Linked DNA regions of Homo sapiens. The protein of the gene in region 1 purifies or fractionates together with the protein of each later gene. This does not show direct contact. Each region holds a gene or a part of one and is shown on either strand. Other genes may lie near its edges. The genes, in order: PYGL, HK1, HSD17B4 and PFKL.

The links.
Region 2: the proteins of PYGL (region 1) and HK1 fractionate together in Homo sapiens (co-fractionation; one large-scale study listed by BioGRID). This does not show direct contact.
Region 3: the proteins of PYGL (region 1) and HSD17B4 fractionate together in Homo sapiens (co-fractionation; one large-scale study listed by BioGRID). This does not show direct contact.
Region 4: the proteins of PYGL (region 1) and PFKL fractionate together in Homo sapiens (co-fractionation; one large-scale study listed by BioGRID). This does not show direct contact.

Annotation. Positions count from the first base shown.
Region 1 is NC_000014.9:50,905,874-50,911,008, reverse strand, and holds part of PYGL (glycogen phosphorylase, liver form), read left to right. Parts: intron 1-906; coding exon 907-1,114; intron 1,115-2,053; coding exon 2,054-2,188; intron 2,189-2,671; coding exon 2,672-2,738; intron 2,739-5,135. UniProt on the Homo sapiens protein: Allosteric enzyme that catalyzes the rate-limiting step in glycogen catabolism, the phosphorolytic cleavage of glycogen to produce glucose-1-phosphate, and plays a central role in maintaining cellular and organismal glucose homeostasis.
Region 2 is NC_000010.11:69,391,847-69,395,346, reverse strand, and holds part of HK1 (hexokinase-1), read right to left. Parts: intron 3,223-3,500; coding exon 3,039-3,222; intron 398-3,038; coding exon 242-397; intron 1-241. UniProt on the Homo sapiens protein: Catalyzes the phosphorylation of various hexoses, such as D-glucose, D-glucosamine, D-fructose, D-mannose and 2-deoxy-D-glucose, to hexose 6-phosphate (D-glucose 6-phosphate, D-glucosamine 6-phosphate, D-fructose 6-phosphate, D-mannose 6-phosphate and 2-deoxy-D-glucose 6-phosphate, respectively).
Region 3 is NC_000005.10:119,454,673-119,459,807, reverse strand, and holds part of HSD17B4 (peroxisomal multifunctional enzyme type 2), read right to left. Parts: intron 3,494-5,135; coding exon 3,440-3,493; intron 1-3,439. UniProt on the Homo sapiens protein: Bifunctional enzyme acting on the peroxisomal fatty acid beta-oxidation pathway.
Region 4 is NC_000021.9:44,309,520-44,314,654, forward strand, and holds part of PFKL (ATP-dependent 6-phosphofructokinase, liver type), read left to right. Parts: intron 1-1,486; coding exon 1,487-1,564; intron 1,565-2,585; coding exon 2,586-2,775; intron 2,776-3,458; coding exon 3,459-3,624; intron 3,625-4,118; coding exon 4,119-4,163; intron 4,164-4,393; coding exon 4,394-4,502; intron 4,503-5,125; exon of another isoform or gene 5,126-5,135. UniProt on the Homo sapiens protein: Catalyzes the phosphorylation of D-fructose 6-phosphate to fructose 1,6-bisphosphate by ATP, the first committing step of glycolysis.

The DNA.
Region 1 (5,135 bases):
CATAAAGGGAGAAGAGCCAGGTTCCTAGGGATGCAAAAGAAGATACATCTAATCCACAAATAAGCTCTCACAGTAAAGCAGAAAAGTGGTCCTGACCTTTGTAGTCAAAGGAAGTGCTTCAGGCAGCTCTAATTTGCGTGCAAATCAGCCTGAAAGGTCAGAGGCTAGATGTCTAGCCCCAGGCACACCTCAATTACGTGTGGCTTATTTCCCTGCAGGAAAAGTGGAAGGAAGGAGGTGAGAAGTAGAAGGAATGCAGACAATCCAGTCTCCTCAGGTTGCCAAAGAGGAGTCCTGGAGGGACACTCTGAATGTTATGGATCAAGAGAGAGAAGTTCAGCCTGGGCAGCATAGGGAGACCCCATACATACAAAAATTTTAAAAAATTAGCTGGACATGGTGGTGCTCGCTTGTAATTGCAGCTACTTGGGAGGCTGGGGCAGGAAGATTGCTTGAGCCTAGGAGGTCAAGGCTGCAGAGAGCTGTAATCGCACCACTGCACTCCAGCCTGGGTGACAGAGAGAGACCCTGTACCAAAAAAGAGAAAGAAAAAAAGAGAAATTTCAATATATTTTATAAAGTAGAAGAAATAAAAATAAAACTGTAACAAAAATTGGAAGGAATAAAAGGAAGAAGAGAAATGTAGTATCAATGTTTGTCGCAGTCAATAGATACTCTTCAAAGTTTATAGCTCGAGAAAGAAATACAAGCATATAAAATGGACAAAAGTGGTTGCCTGAGTCAAGGGGAAAGAGTGTGATCTGCCTTCTAGACCATTTGAATGTTTATCTTAATGTGCATGTATTACTTTAATTATCAAAACAGCCCAACTTAATAAATGCTTCAATACAATACAAGCAGATCTAGACAGACAAAATTACTAATTTTAACTTACCTTTCTTGCAGTCATTCCAGCCACAGATCTGTCAGAGCAGATTTCCACTGCAGGCACCGAAGCCTCGGGGACAGGCAATATGAAGTTCATGCTAAATGGGGCCCTAACTATCGGGACCATGGATGGGGCCAATGTGGAAATGGCAGAAGAAGCTGGGGAAGAGAACCTGTTCATCTTTGGCATGAGGATAGATGATGTGGCTGCTTTGGACAAGAAAGGGTAAGAGAATAGCTTCTCTTTGCTAGGCAGGACTGCCCCTCCCCCCTAGAAGGTATGTGACCTCAGAGGGCTTCCTGCCCACACCGATATCCCACTGAAATTGGATCACATAAGAGGTGGCAGCAGAACATCTCCCACGATGAGGCAGGAGAGCCTCCTGGCCACAGATTAATATTATTAAACCCAGCAAATAAAAGTACAGACACATGGAGGAGTTGCTATTTGTTATCGGCCATTGCAGAGCTGGCCTCAAAGAGCTATTTTTCCTCCGTATGTATGATTTTTACTTTGATCAAAAGATGAACCAGTTTCTAGTTGGAAGGGTTGCCTATAATTTAAATCATGATCTAGTGCTCCTTTAAGATATCAAAGAAATGCACTAAAATGTGATAGAGAATAGATACGGGTGTACAGAAGTAATTGGAAACATTTATTTTCACTTCATATCTGGATGGGTTTATTAACCTGAGTTCAAGCACAAAATAAAGAGTACTGCCCAAAGAAGTAACATTTGGAGGATGTTGAATATACTTCCTGACCCTTGGAAGTCAGTTTCACTCAGTAGCAACAACTTTTGAGAATCTGTGGATCCAAAAAGCAACTGATCTACTTAATACAATGTTCATTTAAAGCCATAAAGTCTGCTTTGAAATGGACCTTGCTGTATTCTACCACATCAGACTCTTGATGTTTGACTAGAGTTTTCATTATCTATTGTTCTTAGTGTCTTTGGTTATAAGGAATCAAATTTACAGGAAGAAAAACTTACAGATCTAGTTAAAAGTTATATATACTCATGGTGAAATCTATAATGAAGTCTTTGAATGCTAGTATTTCTGAATGTATTTTTTCACAGTGAATGCAGTGTCTAGTGTGTTGTTAATCACACAACACAATAACAGAGCCTTTTTTTATCACCCACCCACCCCTACCCCACAGGTACGAGGCAAAAGAATACTATGAGGCACTTCCAGAGCTGAAGCTGGTCATTGATCAAATTGACAATGGCTTTTTTTCTCCCAAGCAGCCTGACCTCTTCAAAGATATCATCAACATGCTATTTTATCATGACAGGTGAGTTCCCATAAGAAGATGGTGCTATTTGGATCATGAAAGGGGGACAAGAAAATCTTAAACCAACCAACTCTAAAACCAACAAGAAAATCTTAAACCAATCTTAAACCAACTTAAACCCACTCATGTAGATTAGCATAGATTAGCGTGATCTGCTCAGGTAGTTTAGGCTTGGGGAAAAAGTTAGATATTCTCCACCAGCGATGCCAGTAAGGTTTAAGAATAACACACACAAATCTGGTTCTCTTTTTCTCCTTCCACTGATATTCCCAACTTCCAAATGCATCCCAGTGATGACATTCTCACATGTGAGAACCATAAGAAGGTTGAGGGCTGGTTAAAAGTCTTACAAACAGAAATATGAATTTGGTAAACCAGCCATGCCTGATATTAAGCAAAAGATGATTTTACATGGAATTTTAGCATATATCTATTAATGAAGATTTTGACTGTTTTTTTCCTCTTCCACTCACAAAATAAAAGGTTTAAAGTCTTTGCAGACTACGAAGCCTATGTCAAGTGTCAAGATAAAGTGAGTCAGCTGTACATGGTGAGTAAATTGCCAAGATTTATAAAGAAAACCAGTTTACTATGATTCATTAAAATGTGGGTTTTTTAATTAAATGCAAATATCAGATCCCCATGTAATATCAGATCCCCATTAAGCAATCAAAAAAAAAACAACAAAAACAAACAAACAACCACAACAAAAAAAAAAACCTTGTCTTTTCCCAAGTTCAGGCCAAGGTTGAGATTTGACATTTCAGCAGGAGTTGTAATTTTTTTTTTTTTTTTTTTTTGAGACAGATCTCGCTCTGTCACTCAGACGGGAGTGCAGCGGCGTGATCCTGACTCACTGCAACCTTCACCTCTCGGCCTCCCAAGTAGCTGGGATTATAGGCACGTGCCACCACACTTAGCTAATTTTTGTATTTTTAGTGGAGATGGAGTTTCACCGTGTTGGCCAGGCTGGTCTAGAACTCCTGACCTCAGGTGATTCACCCGCCTCTGCCTCCCAAAGTGCTGGGATTACAGGTGTGAGCCACCATGCCCAGCCAGTTGTAAATTTTTTAATATCCAAGTTTTTTAAAAGTCACAAATAATTCAATATTTTTTGAGCACCCACTCTGTAGCAGACATGTCCTGGAAGCTAAGGAAATAAAGCCTCAGAGGGGCATTAGGCGTCTTTTTTATGCCGGGCACTGTGCTGGCACTGAGAACACAGCATGAGCAAAGTTGAGGTCTCTCCCTCCCTCCCCTCCCTCAAGGAGCCTGTTTGAACATCGAGATTCTTAACCAGAGGTACACATCAGAATCACCAAGGTAGCTTCATCATAGTACAGATGCCAGCCCCCGCACTGAGAGATTCTTTCCCAGTAATGGGTGGGGTCATCAGTATTTGAGAAACCTGCCATGATGATTCTAAGGCTAAAACATGGTTTTTTAAGATAAGGACTGACCCCTATTCTCTGAAAATTGCAAAATAGGTACCTCTTCTGGACTTCTCATGGAGGGGGCTGTATCAATAGAATATAAATTCGTAGAAAGAGAAAGGTGTTCATAATTGAATTTTTAAAAAAAGAAAGAAGAATAAGGAAGACAATACTATACTGAGGGGAAAAAAAAGGGATGGGTAGAGCCATGTGAATAAGCCTCTGCATGCAAAGTTATACGCTTTATCAAACAACTCTCTAGCTGTGTTTTGTAAATATGTAAAAAGGTTGATCATCTCTGATAGGAGAGACTTTTAGTGAATTTCAGATACCCTAGAGGAATGGATACTGGAGGGGGCTAGCTCTGTGCCAAGACTCCAGGGTGGGTTTTACTAACATTTCTTTCTACTCCTTTCCCAAGGCAGATAAAAGGGTAGTTCCTACTGTCATCCTAAATGTCCCACTGGGATTTTAAAAAGGATCATTCAACGCCTGTGCTGCTTTACAGCCCTTATCTTCTAATAGAATAATGGCCAGTCCCCCAGTGGCATATAGACCAGAATAAGTTCAAGTTAATGGCTACAAACAAGCAGGGCAGTGCTAGAGCTAAGCTCAGGGGCTCACTACCTGCTTCCTGTACATTGGAGAGAAAAGCCATATACAGGCCGCAAGAATGCAAAGACACAGGGAAGAGAACGGCCACCTCAAGACAGATCAATAAAACAGCACAGGAAAGAAAAATATGAACAAGGGCAAGGACAAATGTGAATGTCTCCTCTGTTAAAATTATGGCCCAAATCCAAACGATGCTCATCTAGAAACCCAGCATTTGATTCGGTCTTTCTTGTTCATTAGTGCTAATTGCAGCTTTTTACTCTTAACAATGATTGTATTGTTGAGACTTAGTAAACATGACCCATATGACTGGGAAGTCTATTCATTATCCATTTAAATAGTTAAAGAAAATGAAGAGAGAAAGCTTTTATCCTCCTCTTATTACAGGAAGCTTCCAAAGTCTGAATAAACAAATTTCAGATGCTGTTTTGCTGTACCTTAAGGAATGATGGTAGTTTTAGTCTTTCTCGTAAGCATTTATAATGCATTGATAACATTTTTGAATAATGTTCTGTTCACTTCCAATACACTTTTAGAGTTCCTTACAAAATTAAGAGGCTATAAAATAAATTCCTTCTTATCATATTCTTTTATATAAAAATTATGAGATTTTGATATATTTTTATTAAGGATAAAGACTCAATTGACCCTGTTTTGAAGCCCCAGTGGAGTGTTTGGGACTCAGTGTAAGCCTACTAGGGTGCGTATCTTCAGAAAGAACAAGAAAAGCTAAGTAGGTCAATAAAGCCTCTCATTGAATTGTTTGCCTGCATTATAGCTAACATTTTAGAGTAGTGTTTTTCAAACTCTATGAGCCATAGGATAAGTCTCTTGACATGGCATTTAGCAGACAATGGATTCCTCCCCTATAGTTTAAAGGGAAGCATCTTCATTCATAA
Region 2 (3,500 bases), on another chromosome or scaffold:
CTCGGCCTCCCAAAGTGCTGGGATTACAGGCATGAGCCACCACACCAGGCCAAGAAAAGTAATTTATAATAAAATTATAAGATTTCACTATGCAAATGCCCAGGGTCTGCTATTCCAGAGGAAAAAAAATCCTCAAAAATGGCCAAAATGTCCCCTAGGGTCCCTACCACCCCCATCACAATCCACCAGCCAGGCGACCTCTGAAGGGTGGGCGCTGGCAGGGAAGACACTGCCCACTCACCTCTCGATCTGAGAGAGAAACTTGGTCTCAAAGATGCCCCGGGTCTTCAGCGTCTCAGAGATCTGCCCTCGGAAGAGGAATCCCTTCTTGGTGAAGTCGATTAAGATGTTGCGGACGATTTCACCCAGGTACATACCACTGATCATCTTCTCATACCTGAGACAGGAGGAGGGGCCTGGGGTGTCTATGGGAAGTGGCCAGGAGAACTGTCACCCCTCGGTCTCACGGTCACTCCGCGTCTCCTACTGCCCCTCAAGCGCATCATCAACAGCCATGTGCCCAGCCCTGTGCTCTGCCGCAGAGGCAGAGTGGGAGGACCAGGAAGGACCAGGGAGTCCTCCACTCTCTCACATCAGAAACAAAACCACCAGCATTCATGTCTACCTGCTAGACTGGTCTCCCTCCTCAGCTGCCTGATAGCTCTCAGCCCCAAGGTCACTTCCCCGAGAGCCTGTCCTCCTCCTGATCCTGGGTTCTACCTGCCTGTTTCAGGTTCCCACACACCTCACCATTCTCCTCCTTCACAACACACCTGAGCTCACTGCCTCCCACCACCACTGCTGTAGTGACAGCCCCAAGAGGACAGGGCATGTGTGTCTTTTTCAGCTCTGAGTCCCCAGGGCACAGCACAGCATAGCATAGCACTGGGCCCTCAGGAAAGTGCCCAAAAACTATCTGCAGAATAAGCAAATGACTGGGCTAAGTCTTAAAGGAACAAGAAGACAAAAAAAAGGAAAGTTTCTAGATTTTTCTAAAGGTTTTGCAAATACCCAGAGTACTGGTCAAGCCCACAGCAGAGTGATGAGGCCACACAGGAGGGAGAATTCAGTGACCACAACACACTGGAGGTCAACCTGTTCTTGGGACTTCAAATTTCCTGCCCTCTCCATGCTCAAGGATCTCAAGAAATAACAAAGGATTGATTCATTTCCATGGCACATGCCCAAGCCCAGTGTCCCAAAGCTGAGAAGAGTCCCCTGGAATTTGGAACTCCAGGATTCCTCCTATTTCATGTGGTCCATGGAAGAACATGAAACAGAATGGAATCACAGAGGGGTGGGCCACCACTACGAAGTCCCACCCAGTCCTTCTCATTCCACCACAAAGACCACCCCAGTTTGGTGCTGACATGTCCTTAACCCCTTCCAACACTTGCTGATCCCCCCGCTTTTTAACCAAGGGGGTCTTACTATTATTGTTGTTATTATTGTTATTAATTTTTAGTAGAGACAGGGTCTCAACCCTATGTTGCCCAGGGTGGTCTCAACCTCCTGAGCTCAAGCAATCCTCCCACCTTGGCCTCCCAAAGTGCTGGGATTACTTTGATGATAGACTGCACTCAGCCCAAAGGGGGTCTTAGTTCAGGTCATTTGGTAGGCGACAGCATCAGCTAGACTTGAATAGCACGGTTCTTCACTATACTCATTTTTTAGTTACCATCTCTTTATGGTACTATTGGTTCTTCCTCTTTTTCCTCCTTCATTAAATGTCAGTAAAGACCTTAAAGGCCACTGGGCACGGTGGCTCACGCCTATAATCCCAGCACTTTGGGAGGCTGAGGCGGGCCAATCACCTGAGGTCAGGAGTTCGAGACCAGTCTGACCAACATGGTGAAACCTGGTCTCTACCAAAAATACAAAAACTAGCTGGGCGTGGTGCCGTGCACCTGTAATCCCAGCTACCTGGGAGGCTGAGGCAGGAGAATCACTTGAACCCAGGAGGTGGCAGTGAGCTGAGCTCGCACCACTGCACTCTAGCCTGGACAACAGGGTGAGACTCTGTCTCAAAAAAAAAAGAAAAGAAAAGAAAAGAAAAAGACTATAAGGGCTGGTTGCGGTGGCTCACACCTGTAATCCCAGCACTTTAGGAGACCTAGACAGGCGGATCACCTGAGGTCGGGAGTTCAAGACCAGCCTGACCAACATGGAGAAACCCCGTCTCTACTAAAAATACAAAATTAGCTGGGCATGGTTGTGTATGCCTGTAATCCCAGCTACTGGGGAGGCTGAGGCAGGAGAACTGCTTGAACCCGGGAGGTGGAGGTTGTGGTGAGCCGAGATCACGCCATTGCACTCCAGCCTGGGCAACAAGAGCAAAACTCCACCTCAAACAAAAAGAAAAACAAAAAACTGTAAGCTGATTCGAAGAAAAGCACTAAGTAAATAACAGCATGGGTGGTATTTAGAAAAGGCAAAAACCTTGAGGGGGCTAGGGAGTGACTCATGCTGGGTGCTGCTCCAGCCCTTCTTTCTGCTCCTAGGGAGACAACTTGGACCAACTCATCCTGGCCGTGGCAGAGGATGGCCTGATTCCTGGGGGCTTGAGACAAAGGGCAGACACTGCCATTTCAGACATGGTACCTGAGACCTGAGCTGCAAAGCTCCACAAGGCCACTAGGTGGTGCAGGAGGCTCACGGAGGAAAGGACGATTGCGACAGGGCCTCTGCTTCACACCAACCTGCCGCCCAGCCACCCTCACCCCACCCCCTTGTTATTCTGATGGGAAAGGAACACAGCAAGGGGACCGGAAGGCCAGAATCCTCCAGGCTAAAAAACAGTCACAGGCAGCCCCTAGACAGGCATCAACCCTGGGCCATCTTGTACCATGTTGGGGGTCTGTCCTCCCTGGTTCTCTGCTGTCCAAAAGACAAAGGTCAGGAGTGAGCCAGGGGGTCCAGTCTTGAAACCTCTGTTCAGACCTCTCCTCCTAGAAACTTCTTCCACTGCAAGTGGCAGAATGCAGCCAAGTGCTGCCCCCACCCTGACTGTGAGTGTCCTCTCCACCAGGCGGGGTTACCTTTGTTTCCCAGCATTTAGGGAATATTCGTCCACCAGTCTGTCGTAGTGTGTCCTGATATCATCCAGACACCCGTTGTCCCCAAAGGCCCCCCACTCCATGTTGATGCACATCTGCCCCTGGTCCCCCTCCACCATCTCCACGTTCTTCATCTCCTCCATGTAGCAGGCATTGCTGCCGGTCCCTGGAACACACGAGGGGGCAATGAGGAGCGGTGGCCTTGCATTTGGGGGTCTTGCAACTGGGCCTGGGGTCTGGGGCCTGAGGTTCCACAGGCAGGGGGCACGTTTTTTGTGATGAACAAAGTAATAGTTTTTCTTTCCCAATTTTGAAATGGAAAAATTTGAAATGTAAATGGAGAGTCTGAGCCACATCACCCAGAGGGCACCTGCTTAGCTGACTTTCAACCAAGAGCCAATGTGTTCACCCGTCCAGGCAGGGTTATGTTTATTTTAATAGAAG
Region 3 (5,135 bases), on another chromosome or scaffold:
TTCATGGACTAATAGATTAATCGGGTAATGAATTAACAGGTTATCATGGGAGTGAGACTAGTGGCTTTATAAGAAGAGGAAAAGAGACGAGAGCCAGCACACTCAGCCTCTTGCCCTGTGACGCCCTGTGCCATCTCGGGACTCTACAGAGTCCCCACCAGAAAGGAGGCCCTCCTCACCAGATGTAGCCCCTCAGCACTGGCCTACTCAGCCTACATAACTATAAGAAATAAATTCCTTTTTTAAAATACATTACCCGGTTTTAAGTGTTCTGTTATAAGCAACAGAAAACAGACTAAGACACAGAGCTTTTCCTTTAAGCATCTAGGAGAAACATGTATAAGGGGGCTAGGATGTGCCTTGAGTCAACAAGACCTCAGTCAACAAGACCTTCACTTTGATATATCCAGTTCTTGAGCAGAGTGAGTCATATATGGTAAGCAGGGACTGATATTGGTTCCTTTCTCTTCCCTTTCCGAAAGTCTTTAATTTTTTGTCATTTACCCTCACCATAATCCCGGAAGTTAGCTAAGACAGCTATAAACAGAGAGGTCATATAATTAGGCAGCAGAGCCAGGATTTAAAACTTGGCCTGACTTCAAAGGCAATGCACCTTGCCCACTACAGTTCACCTTCCAGCTGTCAAGATCCCATAGGGGTTAAAAACAATGGCTCTAGCATCAGGCCACAGGAAGTTAAGACTCAGCTTTACCATTATTATGTAACTGTAGCACGGAAAAGTCATGTCAATCTTACTTAAAAAGATTGTAATTCAATTTACCCAAAGGTGTTACTTCAGTTCAAGAGTAGAACTCCCTTTCTTTTACTAAGGAGTTCTTTTTGCTCCTTTTTGTCAGTCCTTCTTGTGTTTATGTCCTCAAAATAAAACTTACTATTCAGAGAACTAGATATAGCTCACCTACTGAGGAAACCTCAAAACTACTGAATTCCCAATAACCTACTTAAGAAATGCACAAGCATTTCCTGAAAGATGTAATTTACACAAAAGCAAATGTCCCTTTTTACAGTATCAGCCTAAGGCTTAGCAGTTCTTATACCAAATTTAAATATCCCATAAGCTTTATATTATGGAATATAAAACATAGCAATCATATTAACACAAAATTGGAGACTATCTTAAATGATGCCCCTAACTTTTGGCTTAGCCAAATGATTTCCTTTGGCCAATGAAATGTCGGTAGAAGTGACATGCCACTTCTAAAAAGAGGTCAGGAGTTCAAGACCAGCCTGGCCAAGATGGTGAAACCGCATCTTTACTTAAAAAAAAAAAAAAAAAAATTAGCCAGGCTTGGTGGCAGGCGCCTGTAATCCCAGCTACTTGGGAGGCTAAGGCAGAGAACTGCTTGAACCCGGAGGCAGACGTTGCAGTGAGCCAAGATCACGCCACTGCACTCCAGCCTGGGCAACAGAGCAAGACTCCATCTCAAAAAAAAAAAAAAAATTAGTGTGTGTGATGCAACTTGGAAACACGGTGTCTATGGTGTACATGTAAAAAGGCTAACAGGTAAGACACAGACTTTAAAAAGGAATAGAAAACATCAGTCAAAATTTCTGCACTTCCACATGGATTGAATTCTCCTCCTTAATACTAAACTAAATCTGGCTCTTCATTCAAGTTTATGAAATATTTTTCTTCTATATTCTTGGACTTTTATCAGGACTTGACACAATTATCATCTCTACTATAATAATGCAATGACAAAATAGATAGACACAGCATCTCTGTTTAATTTTTTCTTAGAATTCAAATACTCCTAATCTGAATTTAAGAAATTGAGAGGGAACAGGGAAATAAAGGAAAATTGATGCACAGGAACACACTGTTATAAAATTTTTTACAAAACAGGTTTATAAACTAAGTTTATATCTTAGTCAAGAACAAAAAAAAGAAATGTATTCAACCAATCTCAAACACACCCTTCCCCCAGAAAAGTATATCAACAATAAAAGAACCAATGAACAAAGTACCTTCTTTGCACAAAGAAATATTCTAGGTCCTTTAGTAGATACAAAAGATAAAACAAGATCCTTGCCGTTATGGAATTGAGCAGAAAAGATGTAAATAAATAAAAACATATAAGGTAAAAATATTAAGAACTAAATAGCAACATAAAAAGGAAGGAAAATTAAAAATAGTAACAGCATGTGTCTTTAGGCCTCAACATGAGCTATTCTTGGGAAAATCTGACAAAGTGGGCCTGAAATATATACTCGCTGTCCAAATAATACAATGTCAAAATTCATCCCTGCCAGAAGAAGCAGATTGGATTAGCAGACAGTGCCTATGATCTTAAACAAGGAACATCCAAAGCGTCAGTGTTCCTTCCATAAAGATAAGCTACACATCCACAATGAAGGAGAAAAGTGTATCAAGTGCTCTGCTTAGGGCTTGTTTAGAAAACCTGGTTGCTTGCTTACTCTTTTGTTATATGTGTCTCCCTGAACAAACTGATGAAAATTCGTCTCTCTGTATTGCCTCGTTAAGATGTCAGAAAGCTGAAATTAGAAGATCATTGTGGGCCCACAGTTTTATCCCAGGAAATATGCTAATAAGTACTGGGTCCTACATATCCCCCTGCACTTAGCACCCATTTAGTTATTCCCCAGAAAGGCTCAGTTGTGGACAAATTCGTTTCTGTGTCCACACCAACTGTCAAGCACATTAGATCAGTCCAAACCATGCAGATTACTAAAACCTCCCACCTTTAGGATTCTTCAATACAGTATCTTCCATCTGACCCCTCCACAAACAAAAACTCATGTAACTGCCCCCTCAATTAAATTTTTTTAAAACACTTCCAGCTGAAAAGTTTTGATGAAAGAGTCAAGAAACCCATACTTTAGATTCCTTGACTCCAAACTTCCAGTTCTCAAAATTCAGTTATTTCTTACTTTTATCAATACACTTACAGGGGCTCTCTTTTGATCTCGCACCAGTAGACAAACCTCCTGTCTCAAAAAATTACAGCCTACAATTTACTGAAGTCAAGAATTTCCTTTTATACAATAAATGCTTGTCCCCACCCTTTTCTGTGAGAAACAGGGTTTTTTTTGCGCCATCACCCAGATTGGAGTGCAGTGGTATAATCATAGTTCTCTGCAGGCTCGAACTCCTGGTCTCAAGCGATCCTCCCACCTCAGCCTCCTGAGTCACTGGAGTTATAGCCACAAGCCAGCATGCCTACCCCCTAGCCCTTCGTTATCAATTCTGTTAAGCTGGGAATTCTGTGAAACTGGTTCCCTTTTAAAAGTAATTTAGACAGACAGCCTTAGTCGGGGTAAAAACCTTCTGGCAAAAGTAAAAATTAATAATAAAATTCAACCTTGACAAATTATTTGATAGAAAGACAAAGATAGCTTGTAAAGATTGTATTTCAGTTATCAGCTACAGATTAAAAAGAAAAACACACCAACTTACCAACAACTAACGCTCCTCTTTCTGCAAAAGCCAGGGCATAGGCTCGGCCCAATCCTAATCAAAAACAAAATAATCAGAAAGTTGAAGAAATGTCAGCATAATTTTTTTGGTCCGCTCAACTCAATCCCCATTTAAAGAAATTGGTGAACAATTAATTACATTTTAATGATACTCTCAACCTATCCTATCACTGACATTCTCAACCTATCCACTCTCTTCTGCTTGCAGAGGCTGGAAAGCTTAAAACTGTATTTTTCCACCTATTCTACTACCACTTCCTACCATTCTACTTAGCTGCTAGGATGCTGTGAATTGGGTTCCACCATCTGATGCATCTGCATAAAACTTAGAAGGTGTAAGTGAGACAGAGACCACCTTACTGGGAGTTCTGGCTGTTGTTGTTAAGAAGCTAGTTTTCTTGAAAGTTCCTAGGTATTCAGAAACTGACTATAGCAGCGACTTCTTCATTCAGCTCCCTAATCCCTGGATGGCAGCTTCCATACTTCAGGTCCCTAGTGCCAGTGCTACTTGGGCTGTGGCACAGCTCCAATGACAGCCTCAGAGGTATTGCCTCCTCTAATGGATCAATTTCCTATTGTTTCAGGAGTTATTCTAAGAAGACCTGCCTAAAACCTAATTGCCTGTATTGAATCCTTTGCTGCTTAAAATATCTAGTGGTTTCTGTATCCCACAGTGAACCCTGACTACACAGTCATCAAATACAGAAAATATTTAATTCTGACTCAAAGCTACAAGGTGTAAATTTATATATCCAAAAAGAAATTATATATATATATATAGAGAGAGAGAGAGAGAGAGAGAGAGAAAGTTTTGCTTTTTTTCTTTTTTTTTGAGATCCAGTCTCACTCTGTCGCCCAGGCTGGAGTGCAGTGGCATGATCTCGGCTCACTGCAACCTCCACCTCCCAGGTTCAGGTGATTGTCCTGCCTCAGCCTCGCGAGTAGCTGGGACTACAGGCGCCCGCCACCACGCCCAGCTAATTTTTGTATTTTTAGTAGAGATGGGGTTTCACCATGTTGGCCAGGATGGTCTCGATCTCTTGACCTCGTGATCAGCCCACCTCGGCCTCCCAAAGTGCTGGGATTACAGGCGTGAGCCACCACCATCCCCAGCCAAGAGAGAAGTTTTATAGGCATAGAGTATCTCGGGAAAAACACATTAGAAACTGGCAATTAGTGGTTACCTCTGGAGGACAGAACTATGTGGCTAGCAATAAGGGGTGGAAGGCTTACTTCTGGATTGTTTTTCTGTATTGTTTACATTTTTTAATATGTGTATATTTTTTACATTTTAAGTTAATTGATAAATTTCATTGACAAATGAATAAATTTAATTAACAATTTATATTTAGTATAAATTAATCAATAAGTATACAAATAACAAACTGAGATACATAAATTATTAGCCCCTTCCAAAAACAACCCAAGGCCAGGAGTAGTGACACACATCTGTAATCCCAACACTTTATGAGACAGAGGTGGGCGGATCATTTGAGGTCTGGAGTTCAAGACCAGCCTGGCCAACAGGGTGAAACCCCGTCTCTATTCAAACCACAAAAATCAGCTGGGCTTGGTGGTGTGCACCTGTACCCCCAGCTACTTGGGAGGCTGAGGTAGGAGAATTGTTTGAACCCGGAAGGCAGAGGTTGCAGTCAGCCAAGATCATGTCACTGCAC
Region 4 (5,135 bases), on another chromosome or scaffold:
TGATTCCAGCAGAACTGAGCCACTGGCCTTGTGGGGTCTCTGGGGACTGCTGGGCTGGCCATACCTGCCTGCCCCTCCGCCCAGTGGGGCAGGGGCCTGGCTGGCGCCTGGGCTCTGTATTGGATCCTGAGTTTTGCAGACAGACCTGTGTTTGGTGGCCTCCTGCTCAGGTGGGGCTGTGGGTTTGGGATCATTTTCCTGTTTTCCTTGTTCCTAGCTCAGGGCTGGTACAACCAGAGGGGGCCAGGCTGGCCTGGCCTGAGCCGGAGGAAGTAGCTCTGTGGTCCCTCAGATCAGCCCCTGAGATGGGGCAGGGGCACCTGTCCCCCAGCCCAGCTGGTGGGGAAGGGAGGCTGTCAGGCTAGAAGCCCGCCATGGCCAGAGTGGGGATGTTCATGCGCCCCGCAGCGCGCACTATCCCTTGACCCCCTGCCTGCTTGAGGCACTTGCCCTCCTGGCCCCCAGGGCCCTGACACCTGGTTGGGGAGAAGGCGGAGGGAGGAGCAGAAGCCCACAGCTGAGCTGGCATCCGCCCTGGCCGAGGAATGGCTGCTCCACTGCCTCACCTCACGGCCTGGAGAAGGCTGCTGATGCCATGGAGGGACCGGGGCTGCACGGAGGAGGCCGCCCTTCTCCTCTCCACACCCTTAGTGAAATGCAGTCATGAGTGTCCCTCCCCTCAAACAACAAGAAAGGGCTGGCCGTGCAGTAGGAAACGGGCACGTGGCACGGAGGCTGTGCAGGTGCCATCTGGGAAATCCCAGGTAGAACCGCATGAGAGGCAGATCCACGGTACTGGATGGAAGGCCCAGTGTGGCCGGCGTGGCGGGACGCGGAGCCTGGAGCCCCTGCCTGGGGTGTTGCCGGCCCTACGAGCGATGGCCACTCGGGTCCCCTGGACCCAGGAGCTCCCTCGGGTGGGGGCCCGCCTGTAGGGAGGTGTGTGTGTTCTCAGCTTCCCGCTCTGGCGGGCAGATGGTAGCCTGGGCTGTTCACACGGCCGCCACACAGCAAGAGCACGCGCCGCACACCCCGCCGGCCGCATGCCTGGGAGGACTCCAGTGGGGACAGAAGGAGCCACGCACAGCAGCCTCTGTGGTGTCATTTCTAGGATGTTCAGAACAGGCAGACCTAGGATGCACCCTCAGGAGCTGGATGGCGGGCTCCGCTGGGGCCTTCGGGACGCTGAACTTGCCTGTGTGGATCTGGGTGGGGTGAGGGAGCTCAGACAGGCCCCTGCACCAAAGCACTTGCCACAGGAGTCACGCCCCGGGACACACGGACTCACCAGCTGTGCAGAGGGTGTCTGGAGCCCCCTAGGGGGCACCCGGACCCTGTTACCCAGGCCCTGGGATGATGGTGGGGCCTCACAGTCAGCACCCTGGTCCTGCTTTCTGCTGGTGGGGTGAAAATCCTGCTCCCAGACCACTTGCTGCCGGCCGCCATGGGGTCCCCTATCTCATGCCTGCCCCACTCTTGATTTCAGGGCTATGAGGGCCTCGTGGAGGGAGGTGAGAACATCAAGCAGGCCAACTGGCTGAGCGTCTCCAACATCATCCAGCTGGTGAGGCCTGGGAACGCGGATGCATGTTGCACTTGGACTCGCAGACAGACACACAGAGACAGACCTGCACACACAGACACACACACAGAGACAGACACGTGCACAAACACACACATGCAGACACACAGACATGCACACAGACGCACACACACACAGATGTGCACACACACAGATGCGTGCACACACAGACCCGTGCACGGACACACAGGCGCGCACAGACACAGACACGTGCACAGACACACACAGACATGCACACATACAGACACACAGACGTGCACACAGACACACAGACGCGCACACAGACACACACAGATGCACACAGACATGGAGACAGATACACATGGATAGACACATGCAGACACATAAATACACAGATACACACGTAGACACACAGATGCGCACACAGGTACACAGATACAGAAACATACAGACATATGTACTCAGAGTCACACACACACGTGCCCCATCGCACAGGGACTCAGGTTCAGGCCGACCCTGTCATCTGCTGCCATGGAATTGTTGGGTCGCAGGGTCATGGGGTTGCCAGGGGCCAGGAGGACCTGGAGACGTGGCCGTGCTGGGTCCTGGGGGAGCCCTGGCTGAGGCTGGCTATGAGGGGCCACGTGAGCGCACCTGGAGCTGCTGAGGCTTGAGCCCTGGAGGCCCTGGCCGGTTCCCTGAGTTGGTACAGGGCCTGTGTGTGCACGTGTGCACGCACATGTGTGTGGCAACCTATGCGTGTGTGTACTGTGCTTTCCAGTCTCCAAAGCCTTCCACTCTATTACCTTGGGGCTTCCCAAGCCCAGGACCGGACGGACATCATCCTCCTCTTTGTCTCTCCAAGGAGAGAGGCCCAGGGAGGTAGGGCCACCTCAGGTTTCCAGAGACCCCGGGGCTTCTGCCTCTCACTCTGCAGGGTCTGCCAGCCCCTTGCTGCCCAGTCCTGGGGTCCCTCTGGTGATCCCCAGGGGCTGTCTGCCGCCTGCCATCTCTCCTGAAGTTTCTGGTCTCCTCTGTGCAGGGCGGCACTATCATTGGCAGCGCTCGCTGCAAGGCCTTTACCACCAGGGAGGGGCGCCGGGCAGCGGCCTACAACCTGGTCCAGCACGGCATCACCAACCTGTGCGTCATCGGCGGGGATGGCAGCCTCACAGGTGCCAACATCTTCCGCAGCGAGTGGGGCAGCCTGCTGGAGGAGCTGGTGGCGGAAGGTGGGTCTGTGCCCGGCGCACTGTAGGCCCTGGGGTTTTGTTTTGCCGCTGCTGCCAGGCGTGGGAATGGGCAGGACAGAGGGACGAGGGATCCCTGGGTGCCCCGAGGCAGAGGAGGGGCTGTCTGGCCGTTGGCCGGGGAGGAGTAGTGTCTGCCAGCACGAGCTCAGATGTCTCCCAGAGATGGAGGTCAGTGCTCAAGCCTGAGGGAGGGCACCCAGGCAGTGCATGGGGCTGGTGGAGGCCGGTGTTGCTCACCCTACGCTGCGTAGACAAGTCTTCTCTGTGATTGATCCGAGTGAGATTCTGGACATGCATGGTCACAGTCTGCAGAAATAGAGTTGAAGTTGGGGTGACATAAGACACAGAGTCCCGAGATTGCTGCTTGGAAAGTGGCCTCTCGGAGCCATGTCTGTTCCATGTCCCTCATGTGGGGGACCCTGATGTGAGGCCTTGGCCGCTCTGCAAGGCACCCCAGAGGTCCCCCGTCTGCACTTGGCCCCAGCGGATCCAGCCATGCTGCCACAGGGTTCCAGGCAGGAGGAGGCTGAGCCTGGAACTCCGGGGCCCCTGCCGGGCTGCACGCCTGGGATGCGGGGGAAGGGGTGGCAGGAGAGGGGTCTCTGGCCCTGTGGTGGGGCCAGTGGAGCCTCAGCCAGGTCCTCCTGCTGCTCCTGGCCCAGGTAAGATCTCAGAGACTACAGCCCGGACCTACTCGCACCTGAACATCGCGGGCCTAGTGGGCTCCATCGATAACGACTTCTGCGGCACCGACATGACCATCGGCACGGACTCGGCCCTCCACCGCATCATGGAGGTCATCGATGCCATCACCACCACTGCCCAGAGGTGAGTGAGGCTGGCGCCGGCGGCCAGCCCAGGGCCCCTCCTCCCCGCACGGTGGTGAGGTGGTCTCAGGGTGACGGCCATCTGCAAGGGCAGTGGACTCTGGTAGCCCCAGCATCCAGGCCAGCCGCCCTCAGCCCCCAGCTGGGGGAACGCACAGCGGGCTCCACTCCCACTCTGCCAGGCCGCGGGGGGCCTTTGTGCAGCCCCTTCTGAGGGGCAGCTGCTTGCCCTGGGGTGTGACGCCCCCAAAGGAAGTCCTGGGCTGGCCAGGCCTGGGCTTGGCAAATGACCCTCAGCCTGGGAGGAGATCAGTCGAAACCAGCCCAAAGGCTGGAAGGATCCCAAGGTATCTTTTAGCTCAGAGCCTGGGCATGAGAAGGGGCTGTCCCCTGCCTGCCTCTCCATCCACTGGGTCCCTTGAGCACCCCGCAGGGAATCGGGCTGGCAGGGCCGTGTGGCTGGCACTGATGCATCCTCCTGTTCCATCTCCACAGCCACCAGAGGACCTTCGTGCTGGAAGTGATGGGCCGGCACTGCGGGTGAGGAGGGGCTTCCTGGCCCGCTGGGTGGCCCGGGTGCTGCTGGGGACCGCAGTGACAGGTGTGGCATATTTATTCTAGGGCTCAGTTAATGCCATGGGTGTGAGAGAGCCGGGTGGGGGCCGGGAGAGACAGAGAAGCTGTGGCCCAGAGTCGGACCTCTGGGTACAGGGAAGCTCCCCTCAACGGCTGGGTGGGGGTCCTGAGCAGGCAGGCGCTCGCTCCTCCAGGTACCTGGCGCTGGTATCTGCACTGGCCTCAGGGGCCGACTGGCTGTTCATCCCCGAGGCTCCACCCGAGGACGGCTGGGAGAACTTCATGTGTGAGAGGCTGGGTGAGGTGGGTGCCGTCCAGCCTGCTGGGGGCCGCAGGTGTCCTGGTGCACTGGGTAGCGCCCCTGGGGTTTTGGGACCAGCCTTGACCAACTCATCTATCACTCATGGGTTCATCAGCAGCTGCAGGTGCCCCTTGGGGGCGGGACACGCAAGGAGTGGGGGGCTACGGGGCTGACCTCAGTGAGGCACCTGTGGTCCTGCCCCCAGTGGGCAGGAGGCGGAGAGGGTCACTCAGGCTGCCGCCGCCCCAGGCTCAGCCCCGTGGTCAGTGTGGGGAGCTTGGTGAGGCTGCTTACTGGGGTGGGACTGCTGAGCCTGGGGCGGTGGGAGGTGGTTGGTTGTGAGGGAGTGGCCCCAGCAAGGTCCAGACGGCAGGGCTGTGGGGGTGGCGAGGCCAGGAGCTGGGCCAGTGGGGAGCAGGGCCTTCCCCTGAGGGCGGTCGGGGCCCGGGGGTGGGTTCTAGGCTGGAAAGATGTGTCGGAACGTGGCTGTAGCCACAGGGTGGACAGGAGGTCCCGGAAGCAGGAGAGGGTGGGGAGGCTGCTGGGAGGCCGAGACCGCCTCTGGGAGGGATGGGGGGGTGCCTGGTGGGGAGGGGTGTGTCTGGAGTGGGGGTGCCTGGAATGCCGCCCTCTGG